3 separate regions of the Homo sapiens genome follow, and regions 1 and 2 are each linked to region 3. Evidence: fine-mapped expression QTL. A gene starts in region 3. Each other region holds a variant in brackets. All regions are shown on one strand. Distances are from middle to middle. Region 1 overlaps THADA (THADA armadillo repeat containing). Region 2 overlaps THADA (THADA armadillo repeat containing). Region 3 holds the start of THADA (THADA armadillo repeat containing).

What was found. PIP is the estimated chance that this variant, and not a neighbour inherited with it, causes the effect.
Region 1: its variant is the best candidate, but not a certain one, in a credible set for the expression of THADA in whole blood (INTERVAL, PIP 0.81).
Region 2: its variant is the best candidate, but not a certain one, in a credible set for the expression of THADA in whole blood (INTERVAL, PIP 0.61).

The regions. Positions count from the first base shown.
Region 1 is chr2:43,545,425-43,551,455 of GRCh38, forward strand. THADA (THADA armadillo repeat containing) reads right to left here. Exons shown (of 38, transcript NM_022065.5): 20 at 3,786-3,944. Among named protein-coding and RNA genes, the nearest start is that of THADA, 48 kb to the right of the region's middle. The variant T/A (reference allele first, on the strand shown) is at 3,120.
Region 2 is chr2:43,387,897-43,393,927 of GRCh38, forward strand. All of the region lies in intron 29 of THADA (THADA armadillo repeat containing), which reads right to left. Among named protein-coding and RNA genes, the nearest start is that of LINC01126, 160 kb to the left of the region's middle. RefSeq lists silencers at 3,357-3,406, 3,447-3,546. The variant G/A (reference allele first, on the strand shown) is at 2,698.
Region 3 is chr2:43,593,120-43,599,150 of GRCh38, forward strand. THADA (THADA armadillo repeat containing) reads right to left here and starts at 2,919. Exons shown (of 38, transcript NM_022065.5): 1 at 2,812-2,919.

The DNA.
Region 1 (6,031 bases), 48 kb before region 3:
ATTGGAATAGTTTCAGAAGGAATGGTACCAGTTCCTCCTTGTACCTCTGGTAGAATTCGGCTGTGAATCCATCTGGTCCTGGACTCTTTTTGTTGGTAAGCTATTGATTATTGCCACAATTTCAGAGCCTGCTATTGGTCTATTCAGAGATTCAAGTTCTTCCTGGTTTAGTCGTGGGAGGGTGTATGTGTCGAGGAATTTATCCATTTCTTCTAGATTTTCTAGTTTATTTGCGTAGAAGTGTTTGTAGTATTCTCTGATGGTAGTTTGTATTTCTGTGGGATCGGTGGTGATATCCCCTTTATCATTTTTTATTGCGTCTATTTGATTCTTCTCTCTTTTCTTCTTTATTAGTCTTGCTAGTGGTCTATCAATTTTGTTGATCCTTTCAAAAAACCAGCTCCTGGATTCATTAATTTTTTGAAGGGTTTTTTGTGTCTGTATTTCCTTCAGTTCTGCTCTGACTTTAGTTATTTCTTGCCTTCTGCTAGCTTTTGAATGTGTTTGCTCTTGCTTTTCTAGTTCTTTTAATTGTGATGTTAGGGTGTCAATTTTGGATCTTTCCTGCTTTCTCTTGTGGGCATTTAGTGCTACAAATTTCCCTCTACACACTGCTTTGAATGTGTCCGAGAGATTCTGGTATGTTGTGTCTTTGTTCTCGTTGGTTTCAAAGAACATCTTTATTTCTGCCTTCATTTCGTTATGTACCCAGTAGTCATTCAGGAGCAGGTTGTTCAGTTTCCATGTAGTTGAGTGGTTTTGAGTTTCTTAATCCTGAGTTCTAGTTTGATTGCACTGTGGTCTGAGAGACAGTTTGTTATAATGTCTGATCTTTTACATTTGCTGAGGAGAGCTTTACTTCCCACTACGTGGTCAATTTTGGAATAGGTGTGGTGTGGTGCTGAAAAAAATGTATATTCTGTTGATTTGGGGTGGAGAGTTCTGTAGATGTCTATTAGGTCCGCTTGGTGCAGAACTGAGTTCAATTCCTGGATATCCTTGTTAACTTTCTGTCTCGTTGATCTGTCTAATGTTGACGGTGGGGTGTTAAAGTCTCCCATTATTATTGTGTGGGAGTCTAAGTCTCTTTGTAGGTCACTCAGGACTTGCTTTATGAATCTGGGTGCTCCTGCATTGGGTGCATACATATTTAGGATAGTGAGCTCTTCTTGTTGAATTGATCCCTTTACCATTATGTAATGGCCTTCTTTGTCTCTTTTGATCTTTGTTGGTTTAAAGTCTGTTTTATCCGAGACTAGGATTGCAACCCCTGCCTTTTTTTGGTTTCCATTTGCTTGGTAGATCTTCCTCCATCCTTTTATTTTGAGCCTATGTGTGTCTCTGCACATGAGATGGGTTTCCTGAATACAGCACACTGATGGGTCTTGACTCTTTTATCCAATTTGCCAGCCTGTGTCTTTCAATTGGAGCATTTAGTCCATTTACATTTAAAGTTAATATTGTTATGTGTGAATTTGATCCTGTCATTATGATGTTAGCTGGTTATTTTGCTCGTTAGTTGATGCAGTTTCTTCCTAGCCTCAATGGTCTTTACAATTTGGCATGATTTTGCAGTGGCTGGTACCGGTTGTTCCTTTCCATGTTTAGTGCTTCCTTCAGGAGCTCTTTTAGGGCAGGCCTGGTGGTGACAAAATCTCTCAGCATTTGCTTGTCTGTAAAGTATTTTATTTCTCCTTCACTTATGAAGCTTAGTTTGGCTGGATATGAAATTCTGGGTTGAAAATTCTTTTCTTTAAGAATGTTGAATATTGGCCCCCACTCTCTTCTGGCTTATAGAGTTTCTGCCGAGAGATCCGCTGTTAGTCGGGCTTCCCTTTGTGGGTAACCCGACCTTTCTCTCTGGCTGCCCTTAACATTTTTTCCTTCATTTCAACTTTGGTGAATCTGACAATTATCTGTCTTGGAGTTGCTCTTCTCAAGGATTATCTTTGTGGCGTTCTCTGTATTTCCTGAATCTGAATGTTGGCCTGCCTTGCTAGATTGGGGAAGTTCTCCTGGATAATATCCTGCAGTGTTTTCCAACTTGGTTCCATTCTCCCTGTCACTTTCAGGTACACCAATCAGACATAGATTTGGTCTTTTCACATAGTCCCATATTTCTTGGAGGCTTTGTTCATTTCTTTTTATTCTTTTTTCTCTAAACCTCCCTTCTCGCTTCATTTCATTCATTTCATCTTCCATCACTGATACCCTTTCTTCCAGTGGATTGCATCGGCTCCTGAGGCTTCTGCATTCTTCACGTAGTTCTCGAGCCTTGGCTTTCAGCTCCATCAGCTCCTTTAAGCACTTCTCTGTATTGGTTATTCTAGTTATACATTTGTCTAAATTTTTTCAAAGTTTTCAACTTCTTTGCCTTTGGTTTTAATTTCCTCCTGTAGCTTGGAGTAGTTTGATCATCTGAAGCCTTCTTCTCTCAACAAGTCAAAGTCATTCTGCGTCCAGCTTTGTTCCGTTGCTGGTGAGGAGCTGCATTCCTTTGGAGGAGGAAAGGCACCCTGCTTTTTAGAGTTTCCAGTTTTTCTGCTCTGTTTTTTCCCCATCTTTGTGGTTTTATCTACTTTTGGTCTTTGATGATGGTGATGTACAGATGGGTTTTTGGTGTGGATGTCCTTTCTGTTTGTTAGTTTTCCTTCTAACAGACAGGACCCTCAGCTGCAGGTCTGTTGGAGTTTGCTAGAGGTCCACTCCAGACCCTGTTTGCCTGGGTACCAGCAGCGGTGGCTGCAGAACAGCGGATTTTTGTGAACCGCGAATGCTGCTGTCTGATCGTTCCTCTGGAAGTTTTGTCTCAGAGGGGTACCCGGCCATGTGAGGTGTCAGTCTGCCCCTACTGGGGGGTGCCTCCCAGTTAGGCTGCTCAGGGTTCAGGGGTCAGGGACCCACTTGAGGAGGCAGTCTGCCCGTTCTCAGATCTCCAGCTGTGTGCTGGGAGAACCGCTGCTCTCTTCAAAGCTGTCAGACAGGGACATTTAAGTCTGCAGAGGTTACTGCTGTCTTTTTGTTTGTTTGTGCCCTGCCCCCAGAGGTGGAGCCTACAGAGGCAGGCAGGCCTCCTTGAGCTGTGGTGGGCTCCACCCAGTTCGAGCTTCCTGCCTGCT[T/A]TGTTTACCTAAGCAAGCCTGGGCAACGGTGGGCGCCCCTCCCCCAGCCTCGATGCTGCCTTGCAGTTTGATCTCAGACTGCTGTGCTAGCAATCAGCGAGACTCCGTGGGCGTAGGACCCTCTGAGCCAGGTGCGGGATATAATCTCCTGGTGCGCTGTTTTTTAAGCCCGTCGGAAAAGTGCAGTATTAGGATGGCAGTGACCCGATTTTCCAGGTACCGTCTGTCACCCCTTTCTTTGACTAGGAAAGGGAACTCCCTGACCCCTTGCGCTTCCCAAGTGAGGCAATGCCTCGCCCTGCTTCGGCTCGCGCATGGTGCGCTGCACCCACTGTCCTGCGCCCACTGTCTGGCACTCCCTAGTGAGATGAACCCGGTACCTCAGATGGAAATGCAGAAATCACCCGTCTTCTGCGTCACTCCCGCTGGGAGCTGTAGACTGGAGCTGTTCCTATTCGGCCATCTTGGCTCCACCCCCCTGGTAAAAGTCTTATAAATCCATTCCTAAACCCAAATCTTTCCCAAAACAAAATTTTTAAAAAACTTTATTTTCTAGAAATGTTCTGCACAGATTTGCAACCTCTAATTTACCATATAAAAAGGGCATTCTGTACATTTTACTGGTTACTTAAACATGAATTACAGTATCCATTTTATACAAGTTACCTTTGATTTCTGTAGAAGTATCAATATTCACCACACTAGCATTCAAGTCCTTCATATCAAAGCTATCATGTTCTTTCAATATTTTGGCTTGGTTAAAATAATCATTAGTATCTCGAGGCTGAATCTCATTCAGAATCATCTGTAAGCGGCTTGCTGACTCTGAGGGAAAGAAATGAGCGTACATGAAACCCAGTAACACATCACATGCCAGATTTCCCTTGGGGATGCTTACTCAAAAAATCTATAATTTTCAATACTTAATAATCAGCTTTATTAGAAGGGACTCACAAGGTGGATAATATGAAAATTATTTATACAGTTTTCATGATGCTTGAGTGCATTTTTAAAATATGGCAATTTAGACTGAAATATAACAACAAAAAAAACTCACTGAAACTGTCCACAGGACAAAGGCCACCATGTCATCTACACTGCTTTTCTTAGTGTTGTCTAAATATCTCAAATATGGTGCTAATCATGTCAAAGAAGTGCAATAAACTTCAATAAATTTAGTTTTAAGAGGCTATTTCTCTATGAAAGAAAAATGAAGCAGGCAACAGAAAAGTAGAAAAAAATCAATATTTGATTTAAAATATAAATAAATATAAAAAATAGAAAATAGATTATTTCCCCATCATAATACAAGGTATCAAAGTTTAAAGATAGAAAGGTAAAAAGACATTTTTAAAAACCCATCAACAGCAAAAACAATCTTTTATAGGACAGGAATATCGTAACGACTCCACAACTTTGAAACACATTATGTAATATACTGCTTTCTAATTATGATTTACAGTCTTCATATTACATTAAGTTTCATTTTTATTCCCTAAGCACTCACTGGATTAGGAAATGTAAGCTCCATGAATGCAACACTTTGTTCATTACTGAGTGACGAGTGCCTATAACAGAAACTGGCTCACAGCAGAGGTTCAGGAACATGAGTTGAAGGAATGAATGGATGTAGGTAGTAAGGAGTTAGCCAGGCTCAGATTTTCAAAACTAGCCATTGGTAATCATCTGAAATCAATTAACAAATCGAAGAACCGGTATTTATTGTACATCTATTATTTTGACTTATATTTAGGTACTATGGGAAATACAAACACGCAAATTACTATCATGATGATTCAATCAACATCTTATGTTCCTTCCTGGAATTTTGTCAAAAATAAATTTCAACAGCCATGAAAAACTAACAATGACCCCAAAAGAAACCACGCAAAGACCAAGAAAAGATCAGAGAATAAATTTTTAAGAATCCTATCCATTCAATTTTACAGCTTTCAGGGGAGACTTTCCTCATGCAATTCAGAATGTATGGCAGATAACACAGGGAAGAAGCAGCAAAAATGAAGACAACCAGAGGTAAAAAGACAGGCAGAATGAAGGAAAAGTCTGTGGGGCAAAGACAGTTTTTGAGACCAACTGATACCTTAAAACTCTTCACTAATAAAGATAATGTTAGCATCCTCTGTAGGATCTACCCACAGTAGGTAACAGAAATATTCAAGATTTCTCATCCAGAATATATGGGTACTTTGCTGACCCAAATATTAGCTATAAGATTGCATGTTCCTTATTCTTATGCACTGCTCAAGTAGAAAATCTAAAGCGACAAAATTTAGTATTTAAGGCCAGCACAGTGGCTAAGGCCTGTAATCCCAATGCTTTAAGAGGCCAAGGCAGAAGGATTGCTTGACAAGAGCAGCCTGCACAACACAGGAAGATCCCATCTCTACCAAAAAAAAATTAATTAAATAAAATAATTTGGTATTTAGACTAACAACAGGCTAAATAAATGTGTCTTACTATCGTGAACCATCACCAATCTTCTAACTCATTTTTAGGAAAGAACAAAACCTAATATTCTCTGTGCAAAACACATAACTCCACATTACCTTAATTATCAGCCCAAGGTATTTCAGCATATGGTTCAGTGAGTGTTTATGATACAGTCAGTTTTTCTAATACAAGCCTCTCTTTGCACTCTAAAATACATTTACAAACTTTATTTCAACACCAAACATAAATATATTTCATGATTTTTCTGTGTATTAAAAGGAACACTCAATTTTAGCACAGGTTAAGCATCCCTTATCTGAAATGCCTGGGACCAAAAACGTTCTCAATTTATTTTTTTGAATATTGGAATATCTGCATTGTACTTAATGGCTGAGGAGCCCTAATCTGAAAATCCAAAATACAGATGCTCCAATAAGCATTTCTTTTGAGCATCCCATTGG
Region 2 (6,031 bases), 210 kb before region 3:
AAAAGAGTTTTATTACTTATTTAAACTTTCCTTTAAGCCTGTGTGTCAATTTTACTTCAGGCATCTGGGGTGGCTGCCAAATTGGCTATACTCAACCACAGTGCTTTTAAATGGTCAGCTGTGTCCTTAGTAACTCAAATACGTTGGGTGCCATAAATATATCTAAGAGCTATAGCACAAGTACATAAACGTGCAATCTCAAATATGCTATCCCAATAAAAACAAAGGTCTTACTTTTGGCCTATTCCATTTGCATATACTAAAAACAAATAACAACAAATAATACTATTTTTATTGGTTGGGAACCACCAAACAAATCCCTTCACATTATGGGACCACATACCATCAGATATTTTACAGGGATTCTAGGAAATGACAAAAGCCTGACAGTGTACCCACGGTGAGATGTTTTGTTGTGTTGCATAATTTTTAAAGTATATTCAGAATTATCGTCAGTCATATGAAGTCTCAGACAGTAAGAGTGGAATGGCTCGCAGGGGATGGAAAGCATATCTTCCAAGATGAAAAAAAAACTTGGAATGTGCTAGATTAATCTATCTAGGAGGATCCTGTATCTCCTTTCACTTTATGAACTTCAAATTTCTCCCTTCCCATGATAAAAGAGTCCTTTGTCTCAGACAGTGTGAGACACTGATTCCTCAAGTTTCCAGTGGGATCTGAGGGAGAGGATGTAATTCAAAACAAAACAGGTGCAAGGAATAACAACCTGATAGGCAAGAACTCTGCCCTTAAAAATTTGAGCTAATCTCAGCTCTTATAATCTTTAACATGATCTACAGGAAGGCAGAGAACACAGTGACTGACCGGAGGAACCTCTCTGTGAAATATGATAACACATAAAGTCAAAATTGCTGAAAATGGACTTATTTGTCTCATGCACTCACACATCAATAGGAATCCTCATGTTTTACAGTATTATTTCAATGTACAACATTAATTTTTTTAAACACATTTTTCTTTAGCTCAAGGTCTTTTACTCACCATCTACACCAGTGATTCTTACATTTTTAATCATAACCCCCTCACCCCCCGCCCGTAGCAGTGGTGGTGGCAGTAGCAGCAAGTATTAATAATAGCAACTAACATTTACTGAGCATTTACTATATACCAGAGACCTTGCTACCCACTTCCCGCATATTAACTCATTTAATCTTCGCAGCCACCCTATGAGGTCATTTTATTTTCCCATTTACAGAAGAAGTGGAGGCACAGAAATTAAGTAACTCACCCAAAATAACACAGCTAGTAAGCAGCAGAGCTAGGATCCAGAGGGAGACAAGCTGGCTCCAGAGTCCACTCTTACCTACTACCTGAAAGGACCTTTCTGAGCACATGCTCCCAGCTTTTGTGTACTTATTAACTTAGAAATTATATATTATTCTATTAATACATTATGTACATTACATATCAAATGTAAAATAATAGCTAAAAGCCAGGTACACCTGTAGTCCCATCTACTCTGGAGGCTGAGGCAGGGGGACCACTTGAGCCTAGGAGCTCAAGGCCAGCCTATGCACCATAGCGATACCCTAGTCTCTAACAATAACCATAATAATAATAAAACAGGATGCGATAAAAGAAATAACACACTAACGTATTCTTCCACATATATTATTGTCTTGCAAACCCCACTTTGAAGGCTACAGGCCTACAGAGCCCAAACTGCTTGGCCCGGCATTTGTGGTCTCTCACATGCTGACCTGCACCCACCCTGCCATTCACACATCCTCTCTCCTTGACACAACAGGCTGGTTTACTCACTGCCTCCTGCAAACACTTTCTGATGCCCTCCTCCATGCCTGGGCTCATACCATGTCCCTTGCCTCAAAAACAGAAAGCTAGTTTCAAGGTTTATCCCAAGGCCCAATGTTCCCCTGAAGCCTTCTCTCATGTCTCCAGTCCATCCTGGTCTTGCCTCTCAGATGTGTGATCTCGGCCACATGCTTGGTGCACATAACATGTAGCCACGTATTTCTGTGTAATTGTCTGCAGTGTCAATGGTTTATTTTCCAGGTAGCTCATAAGCTTCTTGAGAGCAGAGAATATGCTATAAATTTTCTTTGTATCCTCCACAGTACCTGACATAGTATGTACTTAACTTCTCAATAAATATTTGCTAAGCAGAAGAATAAACATTCTCCACATTTACTCTACATCTCTAAGGCCCAGGTCCAGAGGGTTAAGGTAAAGGTCATACCAGAAAGCAGAGGAAGTAATATGATGGATACTTTGCTCTTTGCCTAAGCTCATCAGAACCATGACAGACTGACGGTATTCACGGTGATTCCAGAAGAAAAGGGTTTCAGAGTCCCCAGCAGTCCTGGCATCTATAGTATGACCACCTCGCTTTAGGGAGCTCTTAAGTTTCTAAAGTAATGGCATCCTTCCTGGCCTTGTTTATCCACTACTGCCCACTCTGTTGGCACTTTCCTATGGGTAAAGATAGTCTCAAACATGCAGTTGGTATACCTGCTTACAAATGTCTGCAGCCAGCACAGTTTCAGAAGAAAATATGTCTACCCTTTACCTTTATTCAAAAAATAAGAAAGTTTTCCCATGTCTTGTGATAGAATTTTGCTCAAACGTTTCCAATGACGACTATTCTGACATGCCAACTGCCCTCCTCTCCTATCTATTCCTGATTCCCCTTAGCCTACTCTACTTGTTCCTTTGTCC[G/A]CAGCAACGATTACCTTCTAACAAACTATCTAATTTACCTATTATATTTACTATAATAAGTTCTGATATGTTTTATTGAATGTTTATTTCTTGAACATTTCTTACTGTCTCCCTGCTGCTGGAATATAAGTACACTGAGAGCAGTAATCTTGGAGGGCAAGGATGTGTCTCTTCTGTTCTCTGATATAGTCCAAGCACCCAGAACAGTGCCTGGCACGTAGCTGGTGTTCAATTAGCAGTTGTCGAATGAATAAATAGATGACATCAAATCCCATTTTACCCACAACCCGAAGGCCCCAGATAGAATCCTTCTCCCCTGACAATATTCCTTTTCCTCATCCAGAGAAGCAGTATACTACAGTGGCTAACTGCACAAGCTCAAAAGCTTCAAACGATCCTGGGCTTGAATCTCAGTTTTGCTTTTTACCATTTAATCTTGCATAACTTTAGTGAAATCGCACAACCCCTCTTGTTTTCAGTTTTCTCACCAGTAGGATGGGAATAACACCTATCCTCCAGAAGAGGCTCTGTAGGAACTCAGTGACTGGTACATCACACTCACACACATACATCACATACACACACACTCTATCTCTCACTGAAAAAAATATATATTTTTCCTCTTTTTGCTATTAATTCCCCTACTCTGATCCTGAACAGTTACAAACACCTGAGGACACATCAAATGGCAAATCTCTAAGTTTCACTTGCCCCTGACTGATACTCTGAGTTCTGAGCACTTCAAAACAGCAGTACATTGCTTGGGGAACAACCACACAGTGCAGTACAGTCAATGCTCCAGAACCTGGCAGCTAAAAGCTGTCTCCAACACCCAGCAAAAGCTCCCTAAGTAACAGACACCAAATAAAAGCTTTTGGATGTTTATAAGGAAGGGATTAATTCATCTTCAAAAGTAGCATTTTAATTAAAAATGACTTTTTTGGGCTTATATCCAGAAAGGAATATATTGCCAAAAGGTAAGATTTAACAAGGTTTAGTCCTTTCTTTAGTTTTTTTTTTAAGAGCCCAATGCTTCCCAATCCTTTTCACATCAAGGCACACATAGAAAGTAATCTTTCTTTGGCACTCTGGGATAAAACCAACGATGCTGCTCCCAGCTGCAGGTGACTGCCTAGAGGCTCCAGCCCTGCCAGGCCACACTCAAGACTCCCTGAGAGCTGAAGGAATCAATAAATACCTTGGCACATCCATAGCCACGCCACTGGAGAAACTCTGCCTTAACCCTTCTTGGACTAGGGACCTTTCTAGCAACTTAAGATTTTTCTCCTTTCACACTAACACAAGTCTTCAAAAAGAAAGAATAAATCTGGCCACCTGACAAGAGTGAGCATTTTCTTTAAATTATGACTCATTCCAGAAAAAAAGCACACAGACCAGAAATCCATTTATAACTTACAGCATCAGCATAGTTTCATGCTTTTGTTTTTGATTTTCCATTCTGAAATAATATTTTCGAGGCATAAAACAAACAACAATGGAGACGGCCAACATCTTAGGTCGCCAAATGGAATCTATCAAGAAATGTTCCATTTCTGGACAGCTGGACCGTTTTATGTTTCACAATTTTGTAGTTTTAAGAAATATAAATGACATTAAAATTCTTAAAGCACTAAGACATTGACTCATATGGTTACATTTTTAAAAGATGGAAATAATTCTTTTATATTTAATCACAAGTTTTGATGTAACAGTAATATTAACAGAAATATATATACATATCTTTTCTATAAATGTTCATTTGCTTCCTTATTTAAGAAACTCCAGTAGAGTTGACACTTAAGGTTACCTCTATCACTGATTTTCTACTTGCTTCCACTGCTCCTGTCTGTAGAATAGAGTGAAGGATGGTTGGTTCCATCCCTGCTTCTTGCACAGTGATTCCTTCATACAACTAGCTGGCCGAACTAGCCTACCTTTACTTCTTTCTTTGTTTTCTGGTTTTCTTCCCGTAAAGGTAATGCTAAAGTCTACTCCAGTTTCGGTCTTCATGTGTCCCATCCAGCCCAACACTACTGTTCCCATCACGTAAAGATTCTGGCTCTACAGTAAACACAGAATCTATTGGGGTGCTCCAGACTCAAGCAGAAATGGCCTCAGTTTCAGTCTCCTTTTATGCCTGATGCCCTGTCTGGCATTGTATCTTCTGTCTCCTCTTCATTTCTGTTACTCATATGATCCCTGGTCCCCGAGGGCTCACTTGGCTTCTAATCCACAGCTCTCTTTAAGTTTGCATCAAAGGCAAACTCCTTGTGTTTTCACCAGTGCCTAGGACAGGGTAAGCAAGCTACAGTGTCTGCTGAATTAAATTCAGTCTTGACCACCTTCTCATGGTCCTATCAGTTCCTAGATCTAGGATCCATAACTCCTATGGTTACCCAAGTTTGAGAGGTTTTGTCAAACCCTTAAGGATGACAGAAGGTGGGGCAACTATGGACTTGGCTATAGCCTAGGTCCCAAGGGAGGATCTGTATTTCCAGATACAGATTTAGTAGCATTAAATGGAAGACCAAAGAGAAATGATGACAGAGAGATGAGTAGAGAGGGGAGGGTACAATATACCTTTCACGGGTCGCAGCTTCCCTGGGTTTCACTGACTTCTTCTGTCTCAATAACACAAATAGATTTACTTTGTTTCCACTGTATCATAACATACCCAATTAGATTTAAGGAGAGCAACTGAGTGATAAAGTATATCTTTAGATGGATCCTTGGTTTATTTTCCTTAGCCATAAAAAGCTGTTATTCACATCAGAGGCAGCACATTCTAAAGAAAATAGGAACACAGGCTTTAGAGTTTAATATGTTATCTCAGCCGGGTGCGGTGGCTCACGCCCGTAATCCCAACACTTTGGGAGGCCGAGGTTGGGGGGATCACTTGAAGTCAGGAGTTCAAGACCAGTCTGGCCAACATGGTGAAACCCAGTCTCTACTAAAAATACAAAAATTGGCCAGCCGTGGTGGCAGGCGCCTGTAATCCAAGCTACTCGGGAGGCTAAGGCAGGAGAATTGCTTAAACCCAGAAGGCAGAGGTTGCAGTGAGCCAAGATGGTGCCACTGCATTCCAGCCTAGGCAACAGAGCGAGACTCCGTCTTAAAAAAAAAAAAAAAAGAGCTAAATTAAGAGCAACAGATCACCTTTTATTTGTACATAACAACAACAACAACAACAAAAGACCCAAAATAGACAAGAAATGAAAAAACTGAAAATTCAAACTCTTATTTCAAATGGTATACATTTTCTTATGAATCACCCAAAATGTGAGTTAAGTACCCAAGAATCAGAATAAACCCTTCCTCATGATTGGTGGCCAAG
Region 3 (6,031 bases):
GAGACTATAATGTAGTACATGTATAAAATAAATCTGGAAGGACATGTTGAATGATGGAATCAGGAATAAAAACAGGTCAATAAACTGGAATAACGAGCAATATGAAATTTACCAAGATGAAACAGAAATAAATACAAAGGGCTGCATTTAGTTTAGGGGAAAAAAACACAGAAAGAGAGGCTGGAGAGGCAAAACGTGGTTTGAAACAGCTCAACAGCCCAAGATGACTGCCAAAAACCACAGAAGTCAGCCATATCAGAGTGCATGATTTTATTCAAACAGGCCAGGTGACATGTAGAGCATTAGGTACAGCGCTGGCGGCCATACTCTAAGGAGCCATAACAAACAATGGAACTATTTCTGAAGGACCTAGAGAGCACCTCCTTCAGAGAACAGCTCAGTTAACCAAAGGTGTTTGGCCTGGAGAAAAAGTCAACAGAACAAGAGCCTTAAAACAGCTGCTAGACTGTTTTGGAGAAAAAGGGAATAGATTTATTTGTCTACTACAGACTTTTTTTTTTTTTTTTTTTTTGAGACGGAGTCTTGCTCCTTCGCCCATGCTGGAGTGCAGTGGCGCGATCTGCGCTCACTGCAAGCTCAGCCTCCTGGGTTCAGGCCATTCTCCTGCCTCAGCCTCCCGAGTAGCTGGGACTACAGGCGCCCGCCACCACGCCCGGCTAATTTTTTCTATTTTTAGTAGAGACGGGGTTTCATCATGTTAGCCAGGATGGTCTCGATCTCCTGACCTCGTGATCCACCCACCTCGGCCCCCCAAAGTGCTGGGATTACAGGCGTGAGCCACCGCGCCCAGCCTTAGACTTCTTGTCTTGCTATTAGATTAGTAAAAGTCAGTACAAGCTACAGGGAAACAGATTCCAGATCAATACAAAGGAAAAGCTCTATGGTCCCACTAAGGACTGGGCTACCTTTTAAACAAAGAAATTTTCCAACACCAGGAATATTCAAAGAGAAGATGACTGAATATTTTCTCTTGGACTCCTGAAACAGCTCCCTAACTGGTCTCCTGACTTCTACACTTACCTCCAAAGAGCCCATTCTGTTTACAATCATCAAAGCAATCTCTTTAAAAAAAACTCTCATCAAATTGAATTACTTACTCTCTTCCTTAAAACTTTCCAAGGGTTTCTAAATACACTTAGAATAAAATTCAAACTTGAGGCCAGGAGTGGGGGCTCGTGCCTGTAATCCCAGCACTTTGGGAGGCCGAGGCGGGTGGATCTCCTGAAGTCAGGAGTTCAAGACCAGCCTGGCCAACATGGTGAAACCCCGTCTGCACTAACTAAAAATACAAAAATTAGCCGGGTGTGGTGGCAGGCGCCTATAACCCCAGCTACTCCGGAGGCTGAGGCAGGAGAATGGCTTGAACCCAGGAGGCAGAGGTTGCAGTGAGCCGAGATCGTGCCACTGCACTCCAGCCTGGGAGACAAGAGCGAAACTCCATCTCAAATAAATAAATAAATAAATAAATAAATAAATACTTGAGATTTTGCCCTTCAAGGCCCTAAATAATCTGACCCTGCCTTCCTCCACTCTTCATCTCAAACCAATCTCCTCTTCACCATCTCAAGAGCTTTGTACTTCCTGATGCTCTTATTCCCACCTAAGAGGCTTTACACTTCTCAGTATCTCTGCCCCTTAATGTTCATTCCACATCTTTGCAAGACTGACTCCTTCTCACCATTCATGTTTCTGCTGCAACATTACCTTCTAAAAGCCTTCCATGACCACTCTATCTAAAATCTCACCAATACAACACACGTAGACACCATTTCCGTTAATTTTCTTCATAGCACTTACTAGTACCAGAAATTACCCTAACTTGTAAATTTGTATATTGTCTGTCTCACCTAGTAGCAAACTGAATGAAGGCAGCAACTTTAATCTATTTTGTTCATGTTTCAAGTCTCAATTTCCAAACCAGTGCCTGGCACATAGTAGGTGTTTAACAAACACTTCACGAATAAACAAATTAATTAACAAACATTTGTCAGAGATGTTCTAGAAGGGATATATGTCTTTAAGGGCAGGAAGGTGGACTATCTGGTACCTAAAATGCATTCTACATCTAAGTGACATTCTACATCTTAAGAACCTATGGTCTGTTTGGGAAGTAAGAAATCCATACAGTAATGGCAGGTGAGCAACCACTTAACCAAAAATGGACGCAGCTAGGAAAGTGTCGACAACAGAATAATTTGTAAAGGGATAGTCAGATCTAGAGGAATAGAGGCACGCTTCCTAAGAAAGTGACCATCGTACAAAGCCAGAAGAGACTGGGAAACCTAACTAGGGAGACTATTCTCTGGTGAAAGGTAAGCAAGTTTGCAGGAGGATTTGCTCTTGCAATTCTGAGGGCTACACAAAAGCAGACTCGGTAATTATGCCTGCTCAAATGATGCCTAAACGTGTGTCCTGAAGAACCAGGGTCCCCAAGGGGGTAAATCCCGTGTCTACCGCAAGGCCAGAAGGTGCCCAGTAAATTACACTCCTCCTAGGTCCCACTTACTGCTTCCCTTTAGAACGCTGCTTCACTCTACACCTTCCTGGCTGACTCCCACAAACATTCTCTGGGCGATTTCTGAACCACGTGGAGTCGAGGAATGACAGTGGGAGAAAGTGGTTAAAGTGCTGTCTCCATGGAGACCTTAGCGACCGGAAATCAGTTTCACAGCCGCCGAATCCTGGCGATACCAAAGGATGGGAATTGGTGTGGCTCGCCAGGCAGCCCTAGCAAAACTGGCCGAGCCGAGCTACCGCGGGTCTGGCAGGCAGGACACCTGGGAGCCAAACCTCGTGCACGTCGGCGTCTGAGAAGAGTCGCAGGCGCCTGGTCCAGTCCCGGAAGCAGGTCTCCTTCTACGGCGTCTCCGAGGCTCGCAGCGCGGTCCACGGTCGACTACCGGGTCAGGGCAAAGGGAGGGAGAGAGGGGTAACCTGGAGGAGTCATCGCGAGAATTGACCAAACGCAGCTCCTCCAATCAGGAGTTCGAGGAGGTCGTGACGTCACCGGGGTGGCCGGTAGCAATCCGGTTTAGTTAACCAGCCACTGTACCGTCAGCGCCGCGCGTTCCTCATGGCGTTAGGGCTGACGGGCCTTGTTGCTGAGGGGCCTTCATTCAACGGTCTCTTGTTGAATGAAAAGACCTCATTCTCTTCACATGCTTGGACGCCTGGGAAGCGCTTTTCTCCCAATCCAGACCTTCCACCTTTCTCCCACTCTGTTGGCCCAGTGCAGAGTCTAGGAGAAAACTACGTCTGGGACTCGGGAACGAGTCCAGGGAGTTTAGAGCCTGCGAGATGGGGCAGGGGTTTGGGCGGCGACTGAACGGAAGCCACGAGAAGGATTCGGACTAAAATGAGTAGTGCTGAACCAACGTGTGCCAAAGCGCATATATTCATTCAATAGATAATGAACTCTACTGTCAGAGCGTCGCCAAGCGCTAGCCTTGAAAGCTATCCCCTACTGAGGATACATGTATTACGCAGCACATACAAATTGTCAGATGGTTCAGTCCTTGAAAAATAAATACAATAACGGGGTGTCACTGGGAGCTGCGACAGTGGGCAAGATCAGGAAAGACCTGATGCTATTATCAGGAGTATTAATTTGGAAAATAGAGACATTTCAGTTCTCTAAACGTTAATGACTTAAGTTTTTAATAATTATTTTCTGAATTTTTTATATCAGCTTGCCTTGGTTTTCTTTATAGCTTTACCACATAATGTATGTATCACTATCTTGTTTCGTTCAATTTTGAAGCTTTTGGAATTGCGTATGTATTCTCCAGCAATTTGCTTCTTTCAGCATTGCTTTTCATATTCACCTACAGGTGGCTGTAGTGCTCTTCGCCCAGGCTGGAGTGCAGTGGCGCGATCTCGGCTCACTGCAAACTCTGCCTCCCGGGTTCAAGTGATTCTCCTGCCTCAGCCTCCTAAGTAACCGGGATTACAGGCGCGCGCCACCACGCTCAGCTAATTTTTGTATTTTTTAGTGGAGACGGGGTTTCACCATGTTGCTCATGCTGGTCTTGAACTCCTGACCTCGTGATTCGCCCGCCTCGGTCTCCAAAAGTGCTGGGATTACAGGCGTGAGCCATGGCGCCCGGACCGTAATTTTCCATTGTTTAATATACTTCATTATGTATCCATCCTGCTGCCTCTTAACATGTGCATTATTTCCAGTTTTTGTTCTAAACATTGCTGCTGTGAACTATGTTGTGCATGTCAGCTGGTGAGTGTGTGCAGACGGTTCTCCACCATAATTTTTTCTGGTATTTTTGACCCTGACATAGTAAGAAATACATTGCAGACTTTGAAACTGTGGACGTAGAAGTACTCACACATAACTGAAGTAAAAATTTCTTGAAATGCTACTTTACAGGAGCTGTGAGATTTTATTTCCTTTTTTTCTAAATTATGGTAAAATACACAGCAAAATTTACCATTTTAACCATTTTTAAGTTTTATGTTTTTTAAAATATGTATATTGTTTCAGACCTACTAATTATATAACTCAGTGGGTCCGAACCCCTTTTTTGTTGGCAGACACTGCAACTCTTCACCCTGCACAGCGAGAGGTGGGCTAGGGAGCAAACATAATAAACATATGTTGAAAGGTGAAGCTACTGTTAAAACTTCAGACAAATTAAACTTAACAGGGTTTAATTGAGCAAGGGGAAAAATGATTCTCAAATCGGGCAGTCTCCAGAATCATAGCAGATTCAGAGAGACTCCAGGGATGCCTCGTGGTCAGAGCACATTTACAGACAAAGAAAGGAAAGTGATGTACAAAAAGCAAGTGAGGTACGGAAGCAGCTGGATGGGTTACAGCTTGGCATTTGCCTTACCTGAACACAGTTTGAACAGTAAGCATTGTATGAATAGTTGAAGTATGGCTGCTGGGATTGGCTGAAACTCAGCTATTGTTACAGAAGCACACTCCTAAATTAGGCTTTCAGTCTTGTCTACCTACTAAGTTAGGTTATGGTTCATCCACAAGGACTCAAATATGGAAGTGCAGAGGCTTTCTCAGGCGGTATTTAGTTCAATTTAACACCGCCATGGAAAAAATAGGGGAATGGAAAGTGAGAGTATAGGGGAGGTACATTGCAACTTTAAATAGGGTAATCAGGGTAGGCCTCACTGAGTAAAGATTTCCAAGAGACATAGACACTTGGTGAAGGGGAAACCTTCCATACAGAGGGAACAGCCAGTACAAAGTTTCCAGGGCAGGGCTTGCCTGCTGGGAGAATAGCAAGGAGGCAAGAGTGGCCGGAGCCAAGCAAGGTAAATACTAAGGAGTGGGACAAGGGGCTTTGGATTATATAAGGCTTTCACATTATTTCATGGACTCTTTCATGAAATGAGGAGTGATTTTGAGCAAAAGAATAATAACATCTAATGTACATTTCAAAATAATCACTGGAGCTACTTTGTTAAGAAGAGACTGTAGGTCGGACGCGGTGGCTCACGCCTGTAATCCCAACGCTTTGGGAGGCTGAGGCGGGTGGATCACCTGAGCTCAGAAGTTCAAGACCACCCTGGGGAACATGGTGAAACCTCGTCTCTACAAAAATGCAAAAAAAAAATTAGCTGGGCATGATGTTGTGTGCCTGTAGTCGCAGCTACTCGGGAGGCTGAGGCACGAGAATTGCTTGAGCCCCAGAGGCAGAGGTTGCAGTGAGCTAGCATTGCGCCACTGCACTCCAGCTTGAGCTGCAGAGTGAGACTCCGTCACAAAACAGAAAAAAAAATAAAAGACTGTAGAGCCTGCAGGAAGCCCAGTGAGGCTGTTGTGGTAAACTAGGCAGGCAGGATGCTGGTGGCACTGACCAGGGTGGTAGCAGTGGAGAGCGGGAAGTGGACAGGTTTTGGATATAATTTGAAAGCAGAGCTAACAGGATTTTTTTCTGAAGGATAGAATATGGGTATGAAGAAATGAAGAGTCAAAGATGAGTCCAAAGTTTCTGGCCTGAGCACCTAGAAGGATGAAGTTGCCAAAGTTTACTTG